Linked DNA regions of Homo sapiens: regions 1, 2, 3 and 4 are each linked to region 5. The links come from fine-mapping of genetic effects on gene expression. A gene starts in region 5. Each other region holds a variant in brackets. All regions are shown on one strand. Distances are from middle to middle.

Region 1 (5,110 bases), 32 kb before region 5:
TATGTGGAATTATAGATATTACATTTTTACATGTATGTATAACACAAATTAAATAACCACAGTTCATGCCCTTTCTAAAGAGCACCAGTGCAATTATTCCCCTATGAAGTCGCTTTCTCCAGGGTCTGTCTCTCAAATTCTTGTTTCCTAAGTGAGAAACTTCTTGGCTTCTTTTCCTTCTGCCATTTGTACCTGACCAGGTTTTTCTTTCCAACTAAAGTTATGTCTAGTTCCTCCATTTCTCATCTCAACATCGGCCAACTAAGAAACCAAAGAACCAAAGAAAGGTTCTTTAGGATAACGAAGCTATTTACGCAGTATTTCTACAATCCTTTCTGTTATTCCAATAGATGCTTACTATAAACCAGATGTAGAACAAGTCCACACATAATCTCCTATTGAGCTCCATATCCAGAAATAAGTCATCTTGCAAGCAACCTTAAGTCTGACAGGATCAGAAGAATTAAAGACCAAGCCATCCATCAATCCATCTCCTTCTCTTGAGGAGAAATGTTTGAGGATTATTAACACAAACGACTACATCAAATGTCAATATGACAATAGATACCTACTAATATATATGAGCAAAAAAAAAAAGTATAAATACCTAAAAACAGGGTACTAATCAAATTCTCAGTTTCTAATGTGAGCTTCTCATGAAGAACTAGAAGTTGTTTCTTTATAATACCAATACCAATCATAACTGACTCTCCATATATAGATCAAGGGGATCACCAATATTCTGGGAATCATATGTCAAAAAAATACTGGCATTAAGTCATTAAGAAATAATTCCTCAAATTTCTCCCTTGTCACCCACAATCTGTAGCCACATTTCCCTCTTTTTTTTTTTTAACTATCTCCACCCAAAGCTAATCCTTCTACTTTTATAACTGAAATGGACCCCACACTCACCCATACTAACCTCAGGGATCTTGCTCAGTTGCCCCATCTATCATCTGCCTAGCTGTCTTGCTTCTTCTAAAAAGGATACTGACTCTTTTCCATTAAATATAAACATGTTCTAGTATAAATACACTTTCTATCTCTACCATTCCATAACTCTTAATAATTTAGTCTACTAAAATCTGGCTTCTATACACCCTTTTATAATAAAAAAAAAAAAGCCCGGATTAAGTAGCCAAAGAAGTTTGTTATTATCCATCCAAAGCGCACATCTTTGTCATTTTACTTTCCTCTTCCCCTCACTTCCCAGGATAAAAGTTTAGATATTCAATCAAGGAAGGGCAATGAAGGTAGGCTGAAGTGCATCTAAAGCCCACGAGTTCCAGAAGATAACTAGAATCTCAATAGATCTTTAAAAGAGGTGATTTCCATTGTCATGAAATGGAATGCTCCACACAATTTTTTTAGTATTTTCTAACAAGAATTAAATTGTTTATTAGTAGATGAGGATAAATGACAAAAATATACAAGAATTCTGAACATCTTTTATAGTAGTAATTTCAACATTAAGTTACTTGAACACAATGTAACAGTAATAGGTGTCAAGTAAAGACATTTAAATGAAAGTTGTTGAGCACAAAGTAACTGAAGAAAATATTATTCTATTTTATTTTGTGAACACCACAGCAAAGACACTGTTCTACAGCAAACATCAGGGAATGGGCTCTTCCTTTCTTTCCCCAAGTGTTTATAATGATGAGCAAATGCTTTGAAAGAAACATCACCATGACACCTGCAATTATCCTGCAAAAAGAAAAAAAGCCCAAACATGTCTCAATTTCAAGAATTACTGCTATATTTCAGAAGTCCTTTTTATAATTAATTTCTAAAAAGCAAATCCTATTTTCACATTAAAATGTACTCTCTTTGAAACACACACACACACACACACACACACACACACACACAAAGAGGTTGAAAACCTTTGAGAAATAAGTAACTAAAAGAGCTCTAGCCCAGTAACATTTTTAAAACCTGAAATTAGTCATGCATAGCATAACGACGTTTCACTCAACGACAGACCACATGACAGTAATCCCGTAAGATTATAATGCTGTATTATTACTGGACCTTTTCTATGTTATGTTTAGATACACAAATACTTATCATTGTGTTACAA[T/C]TGCCAACAATGCTCAATACAGTAACATGTTCTACTTTGCAGCCTAGAGGCAACAGGCTGTACCATATAGTGTAGGTATGCACTAAGCTTAAGTACACACTACGCTGTCCACACAATGACATCACCTAATAATGAATCTGCCTAATGACAATTTCTCAGAATATATCCCCACTGTTAAGCCACATATAATTTTATTATTCTTGTGCTGGCAGTGTTCACAGATCTCCCTTATTTACCAGCTGCTCTCATATTTGCTTCCTTGCTTAAAGATCTCACAACTATACTCAAAGCCTTCAGAATCTAGCATCCTTTGCTTGCCCTTCTGGGCTACAGTAACAAACTCTGCCAAGAATGACATCCAAAGGTTAAAATATTATATAAAATGGGTTAGTTTCTGATATTAAATTTGTAAAACCAAAATTAAGGACTTCTCATTAATTTTTGTTCACATTACATACTCCTCTAAGTTTTAAATTCCTGGAAATACTTAGCCAATATATTTTCTAACACAAGAAAAATATATGCAAAAGCACATTTCATTTCTAATAATAAAAAGCTCAAGGTTCTCAATTGCATGGCAGTGGACGTTTTTCTGCTAGTTAACATAATCGCAGGGCCTAAAATGAATAAAGAAAAAGAGTGATAAATTTGAACACATTAAAGAAAGAATGAAAAATGAAAGGAAATTTACAAATGATGAAAAATCTATTTGTATTACATGACAAATATAAAGAGCTCTCACAAACAAACAATAGCTCAAAAAAAGGGCAAAACATATGACTAGTTAACAAAAAAATACAAATAAACAACACATAAAAATATGGCAAACTTCACTCATATTTAAAAAAATAAAAATCAAAGAGTCTGTTTCTCAACTACACATATGGCAAAGATTTAAAAAGTTCAATAATACTATCAGCAAGAAGTAGGAGAAAAGTCATTCCAATGCAATATAAAAGTCTAAATTGGTTAATACTGCAAAATATGTAAAAAGTAAAATGCATGTACTCTTTGACCTGACAGTTCCACTCCTTGGAATTTATTTTACAGCTATATTTAAATAGCATGCAAAGATACTCACAAAAAATTAAATGCGGAATTGTTTCTTAGAGCAACAAAGTGGAAACAACCTAAAATTCCATCAATAGGAAACCAGTGAAAAATATTAGGTTATGCCTAAGTTTTACAATGGAGTATTAAAGAGCCTTTAAAATAAAAAAATGTAGGTACATATGGGCTAAAGTAAAAAGATCTTTAAGATATACTTATTGGGAAAAAAAACCAAGATTTTGAATGGTATATGCATTGTAGAGCTATTTAACTTACATATATTAAATATATAAGTTATGTTTTTATAAAATTTTATACATTAAGTTAAATATATATATTACACATTTTCAAATACACTAAAAAATTTGGAAAGACACTACCAACACTGTTAACCTGGCAAATAGGATTAGGGTTGGAAGTGACATGAAAGGGAGATTTACTTTTTCATTTTATACTCACCTATGCTTCATATTCTTGTTTTATACTCTTCTGTCTATATTGTTTAAATTTTATACATATACATTTATTAAGATTACAAATGGCATGTTCTAAAAAATAATACTGGTGTAAATAACAAGAAAGGTAAAGATATATGAACAATACATACAAAGAAGTAAAAACTAATTCAACTAATTTTTCCAATCATGACCATTCACTTATAAGACAAAGATTATTTGTAACAACTAGGCATTCTTCAAGGTCCTGTCTTGGTCTCCTACTTTACAACCACTCTACATTCTCAGGAATCTTTTTTTTTGGATGATTCCTAGATTTTTCTTTCCCTCTCCAGCCAGTCACAGAATTCATAGAAAGCCTCAAACCCTCTGTACCATCAAATTAACACAGCGAACAAAGAATACTGTCTTCAAAGGAAAAATTACATGTATACATACATATATATACACACATATATAGCTTTTAGTGAGTGCTGTCTTCAAACCGAAAAATTATATACATACACAGCTTTTAGTGAGTGCCTGTATTATAGTGTATCTATCAGAAGCTTACAACTTAAATAAGACATACAAATATGCAGCAATCAGACAACCGGTTGGAATACTAATCGTGTGGTATTACTTTGCAGACATTTTGCTTAGCTACAGTCACAGAAGAAGGCCTACAGATCATCCAAATGCTAACCCAATCCTAATGATATCAGGAAATAAGAGCCTCATTCCCCTAGTGACTGGGAACTGGAAATAGTCTACCACCCAGGGCACCTGGAGTGAAGACTGGACAATTACATATGCATACAGCCTTAGACAATAATCCCTGCCATGTTTGTTTAGTCAATACAATTGGATTTCTCCTTCCACTTCCTGGGAGGAAAGCCCTGATGTGAACCAGAGTCCATTTGACTGGGGCTTAATCACTCAGTTCAGATTTTGCCAGCTCCCTCCCACCGAAAATTACACACTGAGTTTTATAATCCACTGCTTCAGATGGAGTCATTAACAAAAGTGATTTATCAGACTCACAACCCCAAACCACAGTGCTTTTATCTACTACAACCATGTGTTTCTATTATTTCCTAAAACCTCTTCCTTTAGTGTCCCACTCATTTGGTGCTATTTTTAAACATATTTTAATGATCATTCACGTGTAAGTTGTTACCCTTTGGACACTTTTTTTTCTGGCTATCTCCAACAGGGCCAGCAAATTTCTAAAGCAAATTTTCTTAGGTTTAGTCCCATTCAACCTGGGTTTCCTCATCTTCTAACCCAGCCCTACATAAATGCAACATATATTTTATATTTAAAACTCTAATATTATCTTTAAAATCTGTCAATTGCCCAAAGTGGATTATTTCTTTCTTTGTGCAAAATAACAACCATAATTCATGCTCCCCTCTGCAAGATCTCTGGCATGTATTTGTCACTTTATATTTGGGCCGTGGCAGCGTGTTTTCCTTTTGTCTCCTAGACTTCCTATAGACATGCAGTATTTATGATTATGATTATACTCAACAATAAG
Region 2 (5,110 bases), 48 kb before region 5:
TTTTAAATTCTCAATTCTGTCCATACTGTCCCACTTTTATAATATACTATTGTGTTTTCCTTTTTTTTTTTTTAGATTGGCCTTCTTAGAGGCTATTAACTTTTTTCAAAGAATAAACTCTTGGGTTTTTAAAAAATCATTTCTATTTATTTTTTATTTTCTATTTTAGTAATTTCAGTTTTTAATCTATCCTTTGTATATCGTATCTACTCTTTGTTATGTTCTCTCTTATCTCTTCTGTGTTACTATTGGCTAATGCCACAGACATTATTACTAATTATTAATAAATAGCTATATTAATTATAACTTAACTTTCTGTTAAAGAATGACACACAGATTATTTACTATTTTTGAGTAGACAAGACCATAATAAATATTATAAGATTTTTCTATGATTCACTGTGATATAGCAAGTGTTTTTCTTTTCTTTCCTTTTTTTCAGTATTCTGGAGTTTCACTCAACTAATTTTTTCTCTTCCTCATCAATCTTCATTAACAACTGTCTACTATAATTATTCTAGTCAGAACCTCTTGGTACCTGCATATTTATGCACTATGAAATTGAAAACTGTATTTTCAGTTTTTATAAAGCACATTAAATTTGATTTCTATCTTCAACAATCTGTTATGCAGTCTACAATATGGTTAATTTTAAAACATGTACAAGGATAAAACTTACCTTGGGTTTGTTTTTTTTCCACTTAAAATGTTTTCCCTTTAAACTGCAAATATATAATTATGTGACATCGTCCCTCCATCTAACCCTTCCCCCTACCAAAAAAAAAAAATTCTGGAAACAGAACATATATGAATTCATCCGTCCAAGACAAAACCTAAGTCTCAAATGCTACTGAACAGTATAAGGACTCAGTATTTTTCATATGCAGTAATATTTCATTTTTCCCTTAAATTTAACAACAGAAAAGGGAATTAAATGCTAATAGTAGAGTTAGTGAGAAAAAAATAATGAGCATTTGAGGGAATAGAAGCAAACTGAGGAAGGAGAGAGGCTGCTGCTGGGTCCCTCTCTAAGGAAATCAATTAGTTGTGGCTTCAGTATCTGTTACAGAGCCCTGTTCAAAGTTTGAGATAGTCTATGACATAATTCTTCATCCCAAAATTAGATCATTAATAAATATATAATCATAACTATCCAAAACAACTACTCTACAATTTCTCCAAATTAGACCTGAGAAAATACTGTTCATAACACAATAAAAAAAATTTTTTAACTACCCCAGAAAGCATTGAGAATTAAATACATCCTATAGTCATATGAGTGGGTGTTTCCTATTCCATGACTGAAGCCTACAGGTCAACACTCCCAGCTAGGATAATACCATGCTAAAGATTATTTTTCTGGTAAACAAATAAGGCTTACAGATAGTAGTCATAAATAGAATAGCTTTTCCTTTGGCAAAGTTACAAAATGGTAACAGGATCCCAAAATAATGGCTATAGCCTCAGAACATTCTCTGGATGCCCAGATTGCACTAGGCCCTGTTCAATACCTCCATATTTCTATACTTTTCCTTTGAAGGACCGTCAAAGGACTGTAATTATATATTTATATAATTAATCTTATTTGTATGTTCTCTTTCCTGAAAGAAAGCTTTTATAAGGAGTATATGATGTCTGAATTAAGATCTCAAGGATATACAGAAGGTAACTACATGAAAAATACTCTAGGCAAAGAAAGACTGTAAAGGCACTGAGGCAGGAGGGAAAATAGCTACTTAGGAGGTCAAGACAAGAGATGATGGTCATCTTAGTGTGGTAGATATAAAAAACAAAGAGGAGGGTTAAGAAATATTTAGCAGGTAAAATTGTCACCATTTCACGATGAATTTTATGTGAGGTATGAGACTAGAGAACAGACAGATTCTGCATGCTAATACTAGTTTGTATTTATACACCATTTTCTTTAATTTATTTTTTCTTAAAATATTTGCTCCTATAGTAATACTCTATTTCAAGAAATAAGCCCTCTAGTAATGCCTAAGATGGTATTTCTAACTGCACAGGACAGAAATGACAGATACTTTAAGGAGGGTTAAAAAATACAAGCTGAACTGTATAGAAAATAGGTACATCCATTGACCTTTTTTACTTGGCTGGGGAAAAAACTAGCTAAATGACTAAAAGGAAATAATATTTTTGCATACCTACTCTGTGTCAAGCAAGAC[C/T]ATACCTCAGGAAAAGTGTGCCTACAGTAACATGGCAAGGTAAACAGAATAAATGCAAAGCTACAATAATGTTTACTTTAGATTTAAAATATTTGACCTAGAAAATTGAGAGTGCAAAGGCCTTCTACAAAGAAGGAACTGCAAAGTATTCATTGAGTAAAGGTCAAACCTCACTGTTTAAATATTAAAAGTAAACCACAAGCAAGTTTTTTATAGTCTTGTAACTTTTTTTCTGTTGTACTGTGCTTAGGGGATCAACTGCAGGGATTGGGATGCTAAAACATTAAAAAAAAAAAAAGACACAGTCTAACAGTTCACATATTCTGGGAATCACACCAATGACAAGTGAACTTGTGAACACAGTGAACGATGCACCCAAGAATCAGATCCAAAAGACAGTGTTAAAGCAGTAATTGAATATGGTCAAACTACTACTGGAAATACTTCAAATAACTAGTCAAGTACCTGATTTATATACAAAATGATGAATGTATCTGTTTATTTATTAATGTTTCTCTATGGCCCTTAGTTAATTCCTCAATTTCTTTAAAGAGAATGTCCATAAACCCCCTCTACGTACATGCAAAGGGACCAAAATGCATTTCTCCTCTTTATCAGCAGTGTAGACAAAACTTTAAAGCTACTACACCATTAGGCAAACATTATTTCATTCTTTGTTACAAATGTTGAGCTTAATTTCCTGCGTTATCTTTTCTTATAAAGTACAAAGCTAAATTCCTTTAGATTAAATGTATACATAATGTGACTCCATTGAAGGATTATTAACAGGCACAAGTTATGGAAGGGCAGATTAGGACTAACATATTAAAGAATTAGGATTGGATTTTTCCTGATATAAAACTAGCAATATCCAAAACTCAGTGAGACCTCATCACTCAGTGTTCAAGCACAAGTTAGATGGAGAAGCTATGTGGTGGGCTTAATGTTAAAATAAAGAAGCTGTACTTGTGTGATGGCCAGACTAGATGATGTGAAAGATCATGGATCATTTTTAAGATTTACAATAAAATACTACAGAGAATAAAATAAATTAAAGACATTCATAAAACAAGTATTTCAGTATGTCTTGGTCATCTACAAGATGTCAAGTATTACTCTATGTACTAGATATGAACTGAAAGAATAACCCTTGTCCTAAATACTAAATAGTTCACCCTCTAAAGAAGAGGGATAAGGAAACTAATAATTAATAGTGCTGATGGTTTTTCACTAAAGCCAAAATGGTATTCATAGATATGTGAATGAAGAGATTTACCTTATTCCTGTAACTTAATACTTCCAACAAACGAGCTAAGCAATGAAAGAATTCTTCGCTGTTCAAGCGTTCTATGCATGGGGTTTTCTTTTCTCTCAAAGAGCAAAATTTCCATCAGAAGTATTCCATGATTTTCCTCTAGAACGTCATCAAATCTCCATAGTAGTAAACAACTTTGTATTCCACTCTGATTTCTAAAAAAAAACCACTTTGAAAGGTAATCAAGGCCCTGGATCTGATGGAATAAATTACTTTAGTTGCAGTAGAGAATTCTTTCAGAATTTTTGGCAAAGATTTGTTTTATACATATATATACTTAGTAAAGCTTGAACCAGATGTGCAAGTGTGCTTGAACCTTCTCTGCAGAGAAGATGAAAATATGCCTTTCTGGTCAAAGAATCCTTAGGGGAAAAAAAAGCTTTCTATTTGAAGTTTCAAAGGGCTATACAGTTCCCAAAAGGGACTAACAAGCAGAAATAACACTTCGTATGATACTTCGAATACTAATCTACTGAGTACTGAAGTCCACTGCTCAAAGATAGGAGGAGCTAGAAATTTAAAAAACAATCAGTAATATCAGAGTCATGTGCACAAGGGATGAGATATAGCCTGTCAATTATTCAGTCATATCCTCAAAACCGTAGGAGAAATGTTATTTAACAGAATACCTGCTTCAAATGTTTTCCTTCTGTTCCAAGCCGCAAACCAGCTCTAACATTTCAAGCAAGGTTTCTCTATGTGGCTCCTTTTGCTTGCCTAAGATACTTTGAAAACTGACTTTACATTAAACAACTGCACAGAATAATGGAAAAAGCACTTCACTTTAGGAGGTGTATGAAATAAAATCTGGTGGGACATAGCAAACCTTAGTCAAAAAATGAGAAGAAAATGGTCAATTTATTTGGTAGGGTCAGCAAAGCTTGACTACAAGAAGTAACACAAAAATCTCAGGCTTAGGTCTATGCTTTTATAAGAGTGTGGTGTGTGTGTGCGCGCGTGCGTGCACACACACACACACACACACACACACACTATCATAAAACAGCAAGGTATATTCTTATTGGTTAGGGTCCCATACAGTAGTCTCAAATTTCTGACCCATTATTCTGTTAATTCTATAAAGATCTCTCCTGCTATGGAAGGACCTTAACCTGCCTAAAACAGTTAATTTCCCTTAGATGGTTAAGTAACTTTGCAACTCTGAGATTAAGAAATAAATCAAACTTAACCTTTTATATTGTGTTTAAGTAAAAGTATAGTAATAGCTCTGCAACCTTTTTTGATATAAAATTTATTTCACTTTAACACAGGAAACACATTTTTAATGGCACTCACGTTCATTTATAATGACTTGTTCATTATAACTTTTTAAGAATGTGTGTTTGTCTTTTGAACGTATTTGAAACCCTTAAGTGAATAAGCTATACAAAACTAATAACAGCTTAAAATTTTATAATTTAATTAAGCTAACCATGAAAATGGTAAAGAATTTTAGTCTGATTATTTCTTAAAATAATTGAGTGATTTGCTAAATTTACCAAGAGCATTTAATGCTTAAGGAAGGGCAGGTTATTTAAGCTAATAAATTTAATAAATATACTAATTAAAATTAAGTATTCCTTCCTATGCTCTCATACATTTAATGCCC
Region 3 (5,110 bases), 120 kb before region 5:
TCCCAGCTACTCAAGAGGCAGACGCAGGAGAATCACTTGAACCTGGGAGGTGGAGTGATCGTCACTGGGCGACAGAGCTAGACTCTGTCTAAAAAAAAAAAAAGGTAAAAGGGATCTCAAGAGGTCATCTGGCTCATCCTTCATTGACTGTAACCCTCAGCTAGTCTCAGATACAATACTATGTGATGCCTTAATAAAGGCAATTGCTGCTATCTTTGAAATCCTTTAAAACTGAATATACAACTGCCATTTTTACAGTATCTGTGTTTCTTATGTTTCATAATGTTAAGTTAAAATATTAAGACCTCCTGGCTACTTAATTCAGGTACTCATGGAGCTTTTAAAAAAGAAACAAATAATAAGATACTAGACATTTCACCAGTAAGAAAATGTATACACAGTATAGAAAACGGGGACTAATAAATCAAATTTTTTTCTCCTTTGAAATATTTTCAACTGTCATTAAAACTATGTTGTGAAAGAATACTTAACAGCATGAGAAATTATAACATGAGAAGTGAAAAACGTAGCACAAAAGATGTACGTACATTAAATGCCTTTTTCTATAGGCACAAAAAGGAGAGAAGTAAACAGTACATTTAGAGTTTTTGTTTTGTTTTACTTTGTTTTTTAATATGTTGTCTGGCCCAATTCACCAGCAGAGAAGAGAAAATGATTGTAGATAATGTTGTACCTCTAAAATAAAACTATGTATCTTGAATAATGTAATAAAATGGAATCTTTTGACTGGAATATAATAAGTGTAATAAGGAATCCTATTAGTTACGTGACATGTAACAGGAGTCTGGCTTTCCAAAAGAAGAAATGGGGGAGAAGTATTCCAGTGACACCTACTAGAATAGGGACTGGCAAACTTTTTCTGAAAAGGACCACATAATAAAATACTTTAGGCTTCGCAGGTCATACGTTCTCTGTAGGGACTACTCAAATCTGCCCTTGTACCATGAAAGCAGCCATAAGCAATACCTAAGCAAATGAGTGTGGCTGTGTTCCAATAAAAGTGCATTTACACAAACAGGCAGAAGACTGGGTTTAGCATGCAGGGCTTGAGTTGCCAACCCCAGCACTAGACTATAATCTCCATCAAGTCTGGAATCTTTCTGTTTTGTTCCACTGTGTACCAAAAGCATCTTGAACAATGCCTGGTAAATATCAGGCACACAATAAATATTTGTAGAATAAACTACTTTTTGAATAGAAAAACAAAAACGAACCACACTTCTATTAAATCTCTATTCCATTCCATTTAATTTGTATTTCTAGAAAAGAGAAAAAATCATTACCAGACGTGCTCAACTTAAGTGTAACTTGTACATAAAAGCTGATCTACAAATAAAGATTAAACTATGAGGTATGATTAGGCAAGTCTCCAAAAGAACCCACAATCTAACTCAACTACTATTTTATAGTTTTATAGGAACATAATAGTGAACCTTTGTATAAGAAAAAGAAAATGAGTTCCAAATTCAAAATGGAACATCTAGGAAAATTTTTCTCTCAGTATAATTGCAGAACAATATATTTCAGGAAGGCCCTTCTCACCATTTGTCCCACAGGGGCTGAGAAGCTCACCACAGCAGTTCTCACGGCAGACTCTAATAGCTGCCATAGCCAATTATAGGGACTACAGTGGCAGAAGGCCAAAGGTCAGGAAGAAACATTCATGTGAACAAATAAAAACCCTCTACAAACAAATAAGCATTTTCTAGACCAGGTAGGATAAAAATAACTTCATTTGTCGAACTAGTAATTTCGCCTTCAGTCACTCAACCAAATGGTCCCTTTGTCAACTAAGACATGGAAATTAATAAAGATCCTGAGCACTAGGGTAATTTCTTTTACCAGGAAAAAACATACTTACAGACTTTCTGATATCTTTTGAAGAGAGATCTATCAACTTCTTGTTCATGGACCACTCTTCATCAGATTCCATTATGGCTTTCTAAGAAATATCCATTTGTTAAGTGAAAAAAGAACATGTAAGTAAATAAAAAGAAACAGCTTATAACAAGTAATATAGCAAATTAATTATGGGGTATATTATACATAGTAAGCCATTATTCTGAACTGATTAAGGCTTTTAGTTATTTAAAATAAGAACTTCTTAAATTTTTGAAATCTTACCATTAGCCAAAGATAATATTCTTTTACTCATTCTTAACTGTTATACTAACTTGAGCTCAACTTTACATGGCAATCCTTAATAAGACCAATCAATTTAATATGAAACATAATTTGTGATCATAAAGTTCCATTTATAGCACTGCATTCATAGAGATTACTAAATAAATTCATTTAGTTTTACTGCTCTTCTTCCAAAAGGCAACAGAGTAATTTACATGTTTTCTAGCAACCAAGGTCTTGAACTATTTCTGCTCATATAATGAAGAAGTAAAAATACAGGAAAAAAAATGTGCTCTAGAAAATAAAGCCTATTTTTTAAAAGTCCAGGAAGCATAAGTCTATTTCAAGCAGATAGCAACTTAACTTTGATTGCATGCAACTCAATGCTTTTATTTACCCCTCACACATTTTATGTTTTTGATGTCAGAATTTATATAACTATAATTTGTCAATTTGTAATTTAAAAAATAAGAATTTTTTAAAATGTAGGGAGAAAATACATAGAAATGGAGTAAGACTTCCTATGCTAAGCAATGTGACTACTATTTATGGTAAAGAAATATTTAAAAGAAAGAAAAGCCAGAGTGATAAATATAAAATAACCTCATGTTTTTACAGTATTGTTATTAATGAAGCAAATTTTAAAGATAAAATAACATTCAAATAAGTTCTATTTAAATAGAACAGATACAGTGCTATTACCTATTTAAAAGGCACCAGTTGCTTGGCTTGACACTGTAATATAGCACATTCAATATAAAAGCATCTTCAATGATCACATAAAAGGTTTAGTGTAGGCCAGGTGCAGTGGCTCACGCCTATAATTCCAGCACTTTGGGAGGCTGAGGCGGGCAGATCACGAGGTCAAGAGATCGAGACCATCCTGGCCAACATGGTGAAACCCCATCTCTACTAAAAATACAAAAAATTAGCTGGGC[G/A]TAGTGGTGCATGCCTGTAGTCCCAACTACTCAGGAGGCTGAGACAGGAGAATTGCTTGAATCCAGGAGGCAGAAGTTGCAGTGAGCCAAGATCAGGCTCTGTCACCCAGGCTGGAGTGCAGTGGTGCCATCACAGCTTACTGCAACCTCCGCCTCCTGGGTTGAAGTGATTCTCCTGCCTCAGCCTCCTGAGTAGCTGGGACTACAGGTGCCCACCACCATGCCCAGTTAATTTTTGTATTTTTAGTGAAGATGGGGTTTTATCATGTTGGCCAGGCTGGTCTTGAAGTCCTGACCTCAGGTGATCTCCCCACCTTGGCCTTCCAAGTGAGGCACTGTGCCCGGCCTATTTCATTTCTTTATATAAATTTTGATGTAAGTATATAGGAGAAAAATATGTTAATAAAGACAACAATATTTGTAAAATAGCACTATAGCAAAAAATAAGTGTATATGCAAAGACTACTTATAAACACCTTAAAATAGATGGGAGCCATGTCACCCACTTCCTTGGGAAGAGGAATACATTCATAAACCATGTGATACTGTTTCTTCATGCTCATATTAGTTTCCAAAAAAATGCAGTCTAATCCTTTATCTTCAAACATCTTTACCAATGATTTTCTGAACATCTAAAAAAAAAAAAGAACTAGGTAAAGAAAACACTTAAAGGAGATTCAAAATCAAGCATATTCAAGATATTTGAAATATGAAAACTTTAATAAAAAAGTACAAATCCCTTTAAAATGAAAAATAAATAAAATAAACAGTAATATCTGAACTCTGCAATGTTATAGTTACTTTACTTTCTAAATCTACTATATAATTTCATATATTTAAGCAAGACTTTTAAAAAAACTGAAACCCACTATGTATATATTAGAAATAGTTTCAGTAAAATGAGAGAAAGAAGTGATAAAAATCAAATTTAGGTGGTAAAATATGCAGAACTGACAGAACAATCATAGGAAAATATCCATAAGCCAAAAGAGATACTCTGAGCAGATGGGCATCCTTAAACTCAGAAATACATGAGAATTCACTTCCAATTGTTTTCCTATGCTCATAGCATCTGCATTTGTTGGTTCCCTATGTCTGCTGACCCATCACTAATAACCTTGTATATTCAGGTAGTCCTCTATTTTCACATATAATGCAGTCCTATAAAGCATATGAAAGCCAAATACACTAAAGTTGAAAAGTAATAGGGTTTTCTCTTCCCAAGGAACTAAGTATTATTATACAACTATACACACAAATATAATCAGTTGTGGAGGTGTGTGTTTTGTGTGTGTGTGTGTGTGTGTGTGTGTGTGTGTGTGTGTGTGTATTTCACACTCCTAGGCCTAAAGGGCAGCTGTTTGTAGAGGGTGACTGAATAGAGCTGAGTGGTCCAGGATGTCTGCATGCATTCACATGACACCCCCTGTAGTACAGGATGGAGCTAGGGATCGAAAGAAAGGGGAACAGGCTGAAGGCTGGATGCCAGAGCCCAGCTCCGTCCACATCACCATGTCTTACTGTGAACCCCTCAAGCTGTCTAAGAATTCTGGATGAGCGCGGTGGCTCATGCCTGTAATCCCAGCACTTTGGGAGGCCGAGGTGGGTAGGTCACCTGAGATCAGGAGTTCAAGATCAAGTTGTCTAAGAATTTTAAACTAAAGTTGGCCTTGTAAGAGTTTATGAAAGTATATTTAAGTAGGAAGATAAAATGTATTTTATTTAGATTTGTCAGCTTGATTTATAACTTTTTAATATTTTATTTAAACATTTTGTTTTGAGGTAATTACAGATCACATGTAGTTATAAGAAATAATACAGAGAGATCCCATGTATGCTTTACTCAGTTTCCCCAAGGTAACATCTTATAAAACTATACTATAATATCACAACCAGGATATTGACATTGATATAGTCAACACTGAGAGCAATTCCAACACTGTCCATAAAGATCTTCTGTTACCCTTTTACTTTCTCTTCTCCTTTTATTTTTAGAGATGTGGTTATGCTATGTTGCCCAGGCTGAA
Region 4 (5,110 bases), 540 kb after region 5:
GCTGGGGGCCGTTGCCTTAGTCCATAGCAAGTGTTTAAAAAAAAAAAAAAAGGCCAGAAACAGTAGCTCACGCCTGTCATCCCAGCACTTTGGAGGCTAAGGTCGGGGGATCACTTGAGGTCAGGAGTTTGAGACCAGCCTGACCAACATGGTGAAACCATGTCCCTACTAAAAATACAAATAAAATTAGCCAGGTGTGGTGACACACCACTGTAATCCCAGCTACTCAGGAGGCTGAGGCAGGAGAATCACTTGAACCCAGCAAGCAGAGGTTGCAGTGAGCCGACATCGTGCCATTGCACTCCAGCCTGGGAGACAAGAGCAAAACTCCATCTAAAAAAAAAAGAAAAGAAAAACCCACCTGTCACAACAATTCTGGCATCTGGCATCTAACTCCGGTTAGTGTGGACATCATCTTTTCTATGTTTCTAGAAGGCATCAACAGAGAAAGTTGGCACTACCTCCTCGGGTTCTTGCCAAAACATTAAATCCAATATCCTATGAAAGAGCTCCAAAATCAATAAAATTTTCCTCACTCAACCTTATATTCTGGCCTGCTGATCAAACACCTTCAGAGACCGATAGCATGCACAATACTCCAGCACATATTGGCAGTCCTATAGCTCTTTTTGGAATACAGTCTCTTTCCTCCCTTATCAAGCCCAGCACATTTTTAACTGGGTTATACAGGCCCACCTCAGAGATATTGCAGGTTCAGTTGCAGATTGTTGCAATAAAGTGGGTCACAAAATTTTTTTTGTTTGTTTTTTTGAGACGAAGTCTCGCTCTGTTGCTCAGGCTGGAATGCAATGGCACAGTCTCGGCTCACTGCAACCTCTGCTTCCCGTGTTCAAGCAATTCTCCTGTCTCAGCCTCCAGAGTAGTTGGGACTACTAGCTAATTTTTGTACTTTTAGTAGAGATGAAGTTTCACCATGTTGACCAGGCTGGTCTGGAACTCCTGACCTCAAGTGATCCACCTGCCTTTGCCTCCCAAAGTGCTGGGATTACAGGCGTGAGCCACCGCACCTGGCCTTTTTTCCTTTTTTTGTTTTTTGTTTTTGTGTTTGAGGCAGGGTCTTGAGCTGTTACCCAGGCTGGAGTGCAGTGGTGCTAGTCTTGGCTCACTGCAGCCTCAACCTCTCAGGCTCAAGCGATCCTCCCACCTCAGCCTACCAAGTAGCTGGGACTACAGGCATGTGCCACCAAGCCTGGCTAATTTTTGTATTTTTTGTAGAGGTAAAGTTTCATCAAATTACCCAGGCTAGTCTCGAACTCCTGGCTCAAGTGATCTGCCCACCTTGGCCTCCCAAAGTGCTAGGATTATGGCATGAGCTACTGAATCCAGGCTTTTTTTGTTTTTTTGTTTTCCAATCCTGCACCTTCTGTAACAGAATTTTTTGTTTGTTTCCCACTGTATATATAAAAGTTATGTTTTTACTCTACTGTAGTCTATTAAGTGTGCAATAGCACTATGTTTGAAAAAATAATGTACATACCTTAATCTAAAATGTTGTGAAAAAAATGCTAATGAACCTAACCTTTCAGCAAACCATAGTCTTTTTGCTGGTGGAGGGTCTTGCCTGGAAGTTGATGGCTGCTGACTGATCATGGTGGTGATTGTTGAAGGTTGGGGTGGCTGTGGCAATTTCTTAAAATAAGACTATGGTGAAGTTTGCTGCATCAGTTGACTCTTCCTTTCATGAAAGATTTCTCTGAGGCATGCCATGTTGTTTGATAGCATTTTATCCACCGTAGAACTTCTTTCAAAATCAGAGTCAATCCTCTCAAACCCTGCTGTTGCTTTATTAACTAAGTTTATATGATATTCTAAATCCTTCATTGTCATTTCAACAATGAAGGATTCAGCATCTTCACCAGGAGTAGATTCCATCTCAAGAAATCACTTTTCTCTGCTCATCCATAAGAAGCAACTCCTCATGCATTCAAGTTTGATCATGAGATTGCAGCAATTCAGTCCCATCTTCAGGCTCCACTTCTAATTGTAGTTCTCTTGTTTTTTCCATCCCATCTGCAGTTACTTCCTCCACTGAAGGCTTGAACACCTCAAAGTCATCCATGAGGGCTGGAATCAACTTCCTTCAAACTCCTGTTAATGTTGCTATTTTGACCTCCTGCCATGAATCACAAATGTCCTTAATGTCATCTAGACTGGTGAATCCTTTCCAGAAGGTTTTTGATTTATTCTGCCAAGATCTG[A/T]CAGAGGAATTGCCAGCTATGGCAGTTACAGCTTTAGGAAATGTATTCCTTAAGTAATAAGACCTGAAAGTCAAAATGACTCCTTGATCCATGGGCTGCAGAATGGATGTGAGCTAGCAGGCATGAAAACAACATTCATCTCTGTTCATCTCTGTCAGAGCTCTTGAAGCATTTTTGATGAACTGTAGCATTTTGAAAGAAATCTTTTTTTCTGAGCAGTGGGTCTCAACAATGGGCTTAAAACAGTAAACAATGCCACAAACATATGTGCTTTGTCTAGGCTTTATTGTTCCATTTCTGGAGCACAGGCAGAGTAGATTTAACATAATCCTTTTCTTTTTTTTTTTTTTTTTTGAGATGGAGTCTTGCTCTGTCACCCAGGCTGGAGTGCAGTGATGCGATCTCTGCAATCTCGGCTCACTGCAACCTCGCCAAAGTACTGGGATTGTAGGCGTAAGCCATTGCACCCAGCCAATTTAACATAATTCTTAAGGGCCCTTGGATTTTCTGAATGGTAAATAAGTACTGACTTTAACTTAAAATCACCAGCAGCATTAGCTTCTAACAGGAAAGTCAGCCTGTCCTTTGAAGCTTTGAAGCCAGGCATTGACTTCTCTAGCTATGAAAGTTCTAAATGGCAACTTCTTCCAAAAGAAGGCTATTTTGTCTACATTGAAAATTGTTTATCACAGTCACCTTCATCAGTCATCTTAGCTAGATCTTCTAGATAACTTGCTGCAGCTTCTACATAAGCATTTGCTACTTCACCCTGCACTTTTAAGTTACGGCGACAGCTTCTTTCCTTACACCTCATGATCCCAACTATGCTAGCTTCAAACTTTTTTTTTGCAGCTTCCTCTCAGCCTTCATAAAATCGAAGAGTGTTAGGGCCTTGCTCTGGATTAGGCTTTGGCTTAAGGGAACGTTGTGGTTGCTTGGATCTTGTATCCAGACCTCTAAAACTTCCTCCATATCAGCAATAAGGCTGTTTGGCTTTCTTATCACACAGAAAGGGTGTGGCCTTGGGTAACGTGGCTCTCTGCCACTGAGGCAATCCCTGAGGAAACTGCTAGCTGAATGTTGCCTGTCAACAGCACTGCCAGAATCTGGGGCAATAAGTCTTTCACAGAGGGATGATCAGAGTGGGGTATCTCAGTGTCCATCTTAGAAGATTATGAATTAGAAAGACTTAAGGGATATATCAACCACCTATATTGTGTTGATCATATGTTCCTGATTCAACCACAGAAAAGATTTATGTGGCTGGGCATGGTGGCTCACACCTGTAATCCCAGCACTTTGGGAGACCAAGGTGGGAACATTGCTTGAGTCCAGGAGTTGAGCCTGGGCAACATAGTGAGACCCCATCTCCACAAAAAATACAAAAATTAGCTGGGAGTGGTGGAATGTGCCTGTAGTCCTAGCTACTTGGGAGGCTGAGGCAAGTGGATCACTTGAGCCTAGGAAAGTGGGGCTGCAGTGAGCTATGATCACACCACTGCACTCCAGCCTGGGCAACCGAGCACGACCCTGTCTCCAAAAAATAAAGGAATGATGTGACAGTCAGGGAAATTGGAATACTAAACAGTGATATTAAAACATTATTGTTAGCTTTTTGGTGTGATAATGGTATTATTTTTCTAAAGAGCTCTTATCCTTTAGAAATACATACTAAAATGTGTATGAATGAAATGATACGCTATTGATTACAAGTGGGTTGGAGTATACATGAAATAAGAGTGACTATGAGTTGCTGGTATGTGTAGAAGACAAACAATGGCCCCCTAAAGATGACCACATCCTAATTTCCAGAATTTGTGAACATGTTACCTTACACAGCAAAAGAGACTTTGCAGATGTTGTGATCAAGTTAAGGATCTTGGGATGGGGAGTTTAACCTTTTCCAGATGGCCACAATATAATCACAAGTGTCCTTATAAGAGGAAGGCACGAAGGTTAAAGTTAAAAAAAAAAAAGACCACGTGTAAATGGAAGTAGAGGGGAGCAGATCAAAGACAGAAGATGCTACACTGCTGGCTTTGAAGATGGAGAAAGGAGCCACCAGCCAAGGAATTTGGGCAGCTTCTAGAGGCTGGACAAGGCAAGGAACACATTTTTCCTGAAACCTTTAGAAGGAGTGCAGTCCTGCTGACACCTTGATTTTAGCCTTCTGACCTCCAGAACTATAAGAGAATAAGCTTGTATTGTTTTAAGTCACTAAATTTATTATTTATTTATTTATTTTGGAAACAGGGTCTTGCTCTGTCACTCAGGCTGGAGTGCAGAGGTGTGATCTTGGCTCACAGCAACCTCCACCTCCTGGGCTCCAGCTATCCTCTGGCCTCAGCCCCCCAAGTAGCTGGGACCACAGGCACCCGCCAACATGCTTGGCTAATTTTTTTGTATTTTTTTGTATAGATGGGGTTTCACCACATTGCCCAGGATGGTCTCAAGTGATCCTCCTGCCTCGGCCTCCCAAAGTGCTGGGATTACAGGCATGAGCCATCAAGCCTGGCCTTCTTCAACATTTTTTTAAGCCCATATCTTAGTATGTCCTTCCACATTTTATCTCCCTAATACATTTTCAATTGTCTTGTCAAGTTTCTGTTAAAAAAATGATTGAAGTATTATATTGAAATTTTATTGAATATGCAGATTAATTTGGCAGAATTAATTTCATATTAGAGGTGAATGTAACAGGCTGTTCCTGCTAGTCTGAGTTGATTGTGTATACCTAGTGGGAAGATTCAGGCTATCGTCCCTTCTAAGTTTCAAGAATTGAAGGGAGGTCTGTGGTTCTCCAGCCAGTCCACCTATGACAGAATGCACAAGTTCTATTCAAACAAAAGAGAGGGAAAAATGACCAGCTGGGGCCTGGTGTGGTGGCTCAC
Region 5 (5,110 bases):
AAGGTATTATCTATTTCAAAGCCATTGAAGAACAGACTTTTAACGTTCTCACCACAAAAAAATAAGTTGATGAGGTGATGGATATGTTCATTAGCTTGACTGAATCTTTCTATAATGTATACATAGATCAAACCATCACACTCTAACCCATAAATTTACACAATTATTATTTGTCAATTAAAAATAATTTTTAAAAAAATTATAGGAAAACAGGCTTGAGACCTAAAAAAATAAAATAAAATAAATACATAAAGCTTAAAATGCATAAATTTTTAGGCCTATAAGCTTGCTATAGTGGGCCAGAAATTTGAAGCTGTCTTCTACTAGCCAAACTCAAATAACAAAACTTGAGTCATAATGTCCAAAATATTACAATATCTTACCTCTGCCAAAGAGATGAAACTATTCAGCAATGCCAACTATGTGATATTCATTTTGTAACTTATGAAAACATTCTATAAAATTATTCATCCAATATTAACTTGAATACGTGCAAAAAAGGACAGATATCCTTACATCACGTAAACCTGTTAGTATTCACCTGTGAGAACTGTTCAATTCTCTCATTCACATCAGGTAGCATCCATGTATCCTCACCCCGAAGTCGCTTAAGTTCTTTACGCCTTTCTTCTTTTTCAAAATTGGCTTTAGCCTACAACCAAAGAAAAAAAAAAGACAAACTGGCAATTGACCCAACTGGGTTTCACAAAAAAAGGAAAACAAAAACCTCTGTCATTTTTATACAAAAATATCCACTCATGAATGAATGTCTATTCCTTGCCAGGGATTTGCTTCTCCAGTGTAAAAAAATAAAAAAATAAATAAATAAACAAAACAAAGCAAAAATCTCTCCTTCTGCATTTCCAATCTCCAGTGATTTGAGTTACCAATCAGAGAGAATCCAGGGACTGAGTCCAGGCCCTCCCATCTCTCTAAGCTCCCTAGCTCAATATGACTTGGAATCCCTTTTCCCTTCACCATTCCCATGGCTACTGCCTTAAGACTTTTGCAACAGTTAGACCTCCACGCCTTCAATATGCAATGCCTGTAGCCCCAATACCCAGCCCCAAAAATGCCTCAGGAAGAATCATCTCTGTATAAAGAAAGGATCATATTGGTAATTTTTATCCATTCTTCAATGATAGTCAAACAAAGCAAGTTTTTCCTAGGAAATCGTTCCTGCCCTCTTTCTTTCCCTGTAACTCCAAAGCTCAGTTTGGTCCTTTTCAAATTCTATGCATATCTCTACTATAAGATTTATCTCAACTTACGAAACTTACTCCCTCCAAAAACTGCTGGAAATACCAAAGAGAAAAGAATGAATAATATATATATACCCACACACACACATTACATATGTTGAAATTACGAAACAATACCAACATTTCACCTACCCAAGACTAATCGCCCACTCTTCCCCTTTAAAACCTGGCTGTAGTCATTTTCTTTTTTTTTTTAATCAAATATAAAAATAATTTATTAAAGGTTTATATCAGAGAACTGCTGAAGCAACAAGAACTAGAAGAGTTAATATTCCAGAAAAGGGAAAATCATGGAGAGGTAGTCCAACATTCTGCAGCTAGCTTTTCCCTGGGTGCATATAATAATTCTTGGTGTAGGCAAGAAGATGAATACAATGGTTATATACCAAACAGAAAAATCGATATCAGAGAAAAGAGCAGGGCTTATGATGGACTCCAAAGAACAGGGTGAGAAAATTGGAGATTAAAGGAGAATGGGGCTGCTTCACCCTCAAATTATTTGCCAAATTTTGAAACTATGTCATTTTCCCTTTAGAGTCTCCTCTCCCTCTTCTCTGCTGGCTCCTTCTCATTTGCATTTAAACTTGTTTAAAACTCTTCCAACTTAAATAAAAACAAAAACCCTCACTGAATTCTCTGTTGCTCTCCAACTGCAACTTTTCTCTTTCATTGCCACACTTCTTACATATTGAATAGATTGTCAGATAATTCAGAAGCTTACTTTCTCCATTCTTTGTATGTTACCTCTATGTATCTGAAGTTTAGTGAGAAATACAATGTTTCGCGATCTTTTGTGACAGGCTAAATATACTGAGATTGGTGTTAACTTTTGTTTGGATTGGTAAGAGCTTACAGTAAGTCTGGAATTGATACCAATAGAGACAGGAGGAGGAAATGTCAAACTGAGTCTATTCAAGTGTGACTTGAATGTGTTTCCGAAAAAGGAAAATCTCATTTCAGATACAGCAGTAGCAATGACTGAGGCTGCGAGACATGCTGGCAGAGTCCTTACAAGCCGCAGGGGACCTACAAAGTGTGCAGTCCGAGTGATAGAAATGTAAAGAATGGGTAACTTAAAAGGTAAAGAAACTTGGAGAAAAAGCGACAGATCTGCCTGAAAAGAGAATTAGCAACTGGCACCTGCCAGAACATCTAAAAAATCGGTAGCTACAAAAGGGTTTACCGGCATTGCAAAGGGAGAACTCACCCAAATTAAGGTGAGATTCAGTACTGACGAGGTAAGGGAAGGGGTGAGTGGGCTAGCTTACGGGAACCCTCAACTCCCACAACAATAAATAACTACAAAAGCCCCAAAACAGAGGTACCTGGCGCAACACCTCGGCCCTGGCATTCCGGGTCTGTTCTTTCCGCTCTTCGATACTCTTCGCACTTTCAAATCTACCACTAGCAGCCGCCATACTTGTTGCCATCGTAAAGCTAAGAAGCCGCAAGAAAATTCTAGTTTACGACGGTCGTAATTTAACAAACAAACCGGGACTTCCGGACCCGAGGAAGGAGGAGCACGGCTCCACCAACAGGGCATGCGCACATCTGAGGTCGCTTAGGGCTCGGATTACCGCAGCCCAGATTTTAAAGACCCGAAGGGTGTTGGAGGGTTTAATTCTTTCAGGTGTTGGGTGCGATTGTGAGCAGGATTAATACCCGTATATATTTATTATGCACTTTTTACTATATTAACAGCTTTCTCACCAATTTCGTCTTAAAATCACCGGAGTAAGTTACAAGCTCTTGGAAGTTAAGTTGGTACCTCTCAAAAGTTTTCTGCGGAAGTACCCTTTGTCGCCAGAGCATCATTTCCCTGTGCTGGAGGAATGGGATAAAGGGAGGCTGCCAGAAAGGTAGTGGCAGCTGGCAGGAAGGACAGAATTGCCTTGAAGATTCAGTGTTTTGTTTTGGTGGATTTTACTTAATATATGAAACACTCATGTGAATTTTGCATTGCACTTCACAATTTACCCGTGCTTAACTTGTTAGAAGTTTACATTATATTTTTTCCTCTGACCCCATATTATTTACTCATACTTATCCATCCAAGCATTTTTCATTACAATGGACAGTTACTTATTTATTTCTGCGGAGATTTCTTTGTTTTGTTTTACGCATGTATCGCCCAAACATAAAACTTTTAAGTTCAGAAGAATAAGACATTCTAAGGTGATGAAGTGCTTTGAGAACATAAGACACTAAGCTTACATTTACAAGAAGAAGAAGGCTGGGGAATTAATTATAAACGATACCTTAAAGACGCTAAAAATAAGTAACATAAGCCAGGTTGAGGTAAATACTCTTTCTCTTCAGGTTTCATAAAATTTAATGTGTGTTTGCAAGAAGCTTTCCAAGAGTTTTTACATTCACTACCATTCTATGAGTCTGAATCTTGAACACACAATGCCTACTTGTTTGATATGCAATAGAAAGTATTCATTTTATTTTAAAATGTAATTTACTAATCGACCTTGTAATATTTAATCAACTGACTACATTGACTGATATTTGTCATAACTAGCATCAACGTCTTTTCAGATTCTCTTGGAATTCAGAAAAACATCCATTTCACTGTTTTGCATCAATTCAATAAAAATAAACTGTGATTATATTAGAAACGTGTGTGTTTTAATCAGTTCAGGCTGCTATAACAAAATATTATAGAATGGATGGCTTATAAATAACAAACAAGTATGTCTTACAGTTCTGGAGGCTGGATAAAATCAAGGTGTTGGGCTATTTGCTGTCTAGTGAAGGTGTGTCCTGGTTCCTAGAGGGCAGTATTTTTGCTGTGTCTCATATGGCGGAAAGGGAGAGGGATCTCTCTAGAACTTCTTTTATAGGAATTCATGAGGGTGCTGCTCTCATGACCTAATCACCTCCCAGAGTCCCTACCTCCATATACCAGCACATTGGGGATTAGATTTCAACATAAGAATTTTGGGGAAACAAACATTCGGTCTAGAGCAATGTGCAAAGTTATATGAAGAAAACTTTAAAATCTTGCATAAGCTCCCCAAAAAGACTAGAACGAATGGAGAGGTATACTATGTGCTTAAAGAAGAAAACATCATAAAAAATCATTTCTCAATTAATTTGTAAATACCATGCAATACAAATAAAACTGCCCAAAAAAAAGTTGGGGTTAGAGAGGGGAACTAGATATGTTAAAATAGAAAAAAGAAAAGAAAAGAAAAGAAAGAAAAAGCAGGTTATTTTGGCTAGGTTTGCATTTGGCCACACCTAATGCGAATCCAGTCACATGGCTTAATCAAATAAAGGATAACGTAACAAGGAGCCTAAAAGTAACTGGTCCAGGCTTGGTGCAATTGCTGAAGGAGCCAAATAGTTTATCCTTTTTCGCTTTGTTGCAGTCTGTGACTTTAGTATTTGTAGTCACAAGCAGGGTATCATATTCTTTCACATCTGTTCACGGCATCTGATAAACAAGAATAAAGAGAAAGGACAAAGGGTAAACGTTGTTAGCTAAGCTGGCCTCATTTTTTATTAGAAAAATGATGGCTTTTCCTAAAGCCTAGTTCAGTTTCTTTCATTTAAATCCTATGATCCAGAAATAGGTCAGATGATCACAATTAACTACAAAAGTTTCATGAAGATTGCAGGATAGTTGTGTTATAGAATGTCACTCAACTTGGGTTTGTCGGAGGTTCTTTTGTGATTAAATTCAAATTTGGCCTCTTAAGCAGGACGATCACAGAAGTGAGGCGGTCTTACTGCATCCTGTTGGGTAGCGCATGATTTCCATTTGTTCCATTACAGGTGATGTTAATTCTGATCATTTAAATAAACTGGCATCTGCAGAGCTTCTCTGCTGTAAAGTA

Which allele goes with the higher level. Alleles are on the strand shown, and positions count from the first base shown. SD is a standard deviation of normalised expression in the study named. Not every link is listed here.
With allele G in place of A in region 3, the expression in transverse colon of the gene that starts at base 2,701 in region 5 is higher (small effect, 0.33 SD a copy in GTEx).

Evidence for each region. PIP is the estimated chance that this variant, and not a neighbour inherited with it, causes the effect.
Region 1: its variant is the best candidate, but not a certain one, in a credible set for the expression of CWF19L2 in fibroblasts (GTEx, PIP 0.59).
Region 2: its variant is the best candidate, but not a certain one, in a credible set for the expression of CWF19L2 in tibial nerve (GTEx, PIP 0.58).
Region 3: its variant is the best candidate, but not a certain one, in a credible set for the expression of CWF19L2 in transverse colon (GTEx, PIP 0.60).
Region 4: its variant is the best candidate, but not a certain one, in a credible set for the expression of CWF19L2 in anterior cingulate cortex (GTEx, PIP 0.52).

What each region holds. Positions count from the first base shown.
Region 1 is chr11:107,423,342-107,428,451 of GRCh38, forward strand. All of the region lies in intron 8 of CWF19L2 (CWF19 like cell cycle control factor 2), which reads right to left. Among named protein-coding and RNA genes, the nearest start is that of CWF19L2, 32 kb to the right of the region's middle. The variant T/C (reference allele first, on the strand shown) is at 2,087.
Region 2 is chr11:107,406,625-107,411,734 of GRCh38, forward strand. The region is part of intron 10 of CWF19L2 (CWF19 like cell cycle control factor 2); the gene reads right to left. Among named protein-coding and RNA genes, the nearest start is that of CWF19L2, 49 kb to the right of the region's middle. The variant C/T (reference allele first, on the strand shown) is at 2,187.
Region 3 is chr11:107,332,999-107,338,108 of GRCh38, forward strand. CWF19L2 (CWF19 like cell cycle control factor 2) reads right to left here. Exons shown (of 18, transcript NM_152434.3): 15 at 3,560-3,715; 16 at 1,883-1,963. Among named protein-coding and RNA genes, the nearest start is that of CWF19L2, 120 kb to the right of the region's middle. The variant G/A (reference allele first, on the strand shown) is at 3,084.
Region 4 is chr11:107,992,989-107,998,098 of GRCh38, forward strand. No RefSeq gene overlaps it. Among named protein-coding and RNA genes, the nearest start is that of CUL5, 13 kb to the right of the region's middle. The variant A/T (reference allele first, on the strand shown) is at 2,220.
Region 5 is chr11:107,455,125-107,460,234 of GRCh38, forward strand. CWF19L2 (CWF19 like cell cycle control factor 2) reads right to left here and starts at 2,701. Exons shown (of 18, transcript NM_152434.3): 1 at 2,588-2,701; 2 at 542-652. The coding sequence starts at 2,692. RefSeq lists an enhancer at 2,480-2,985.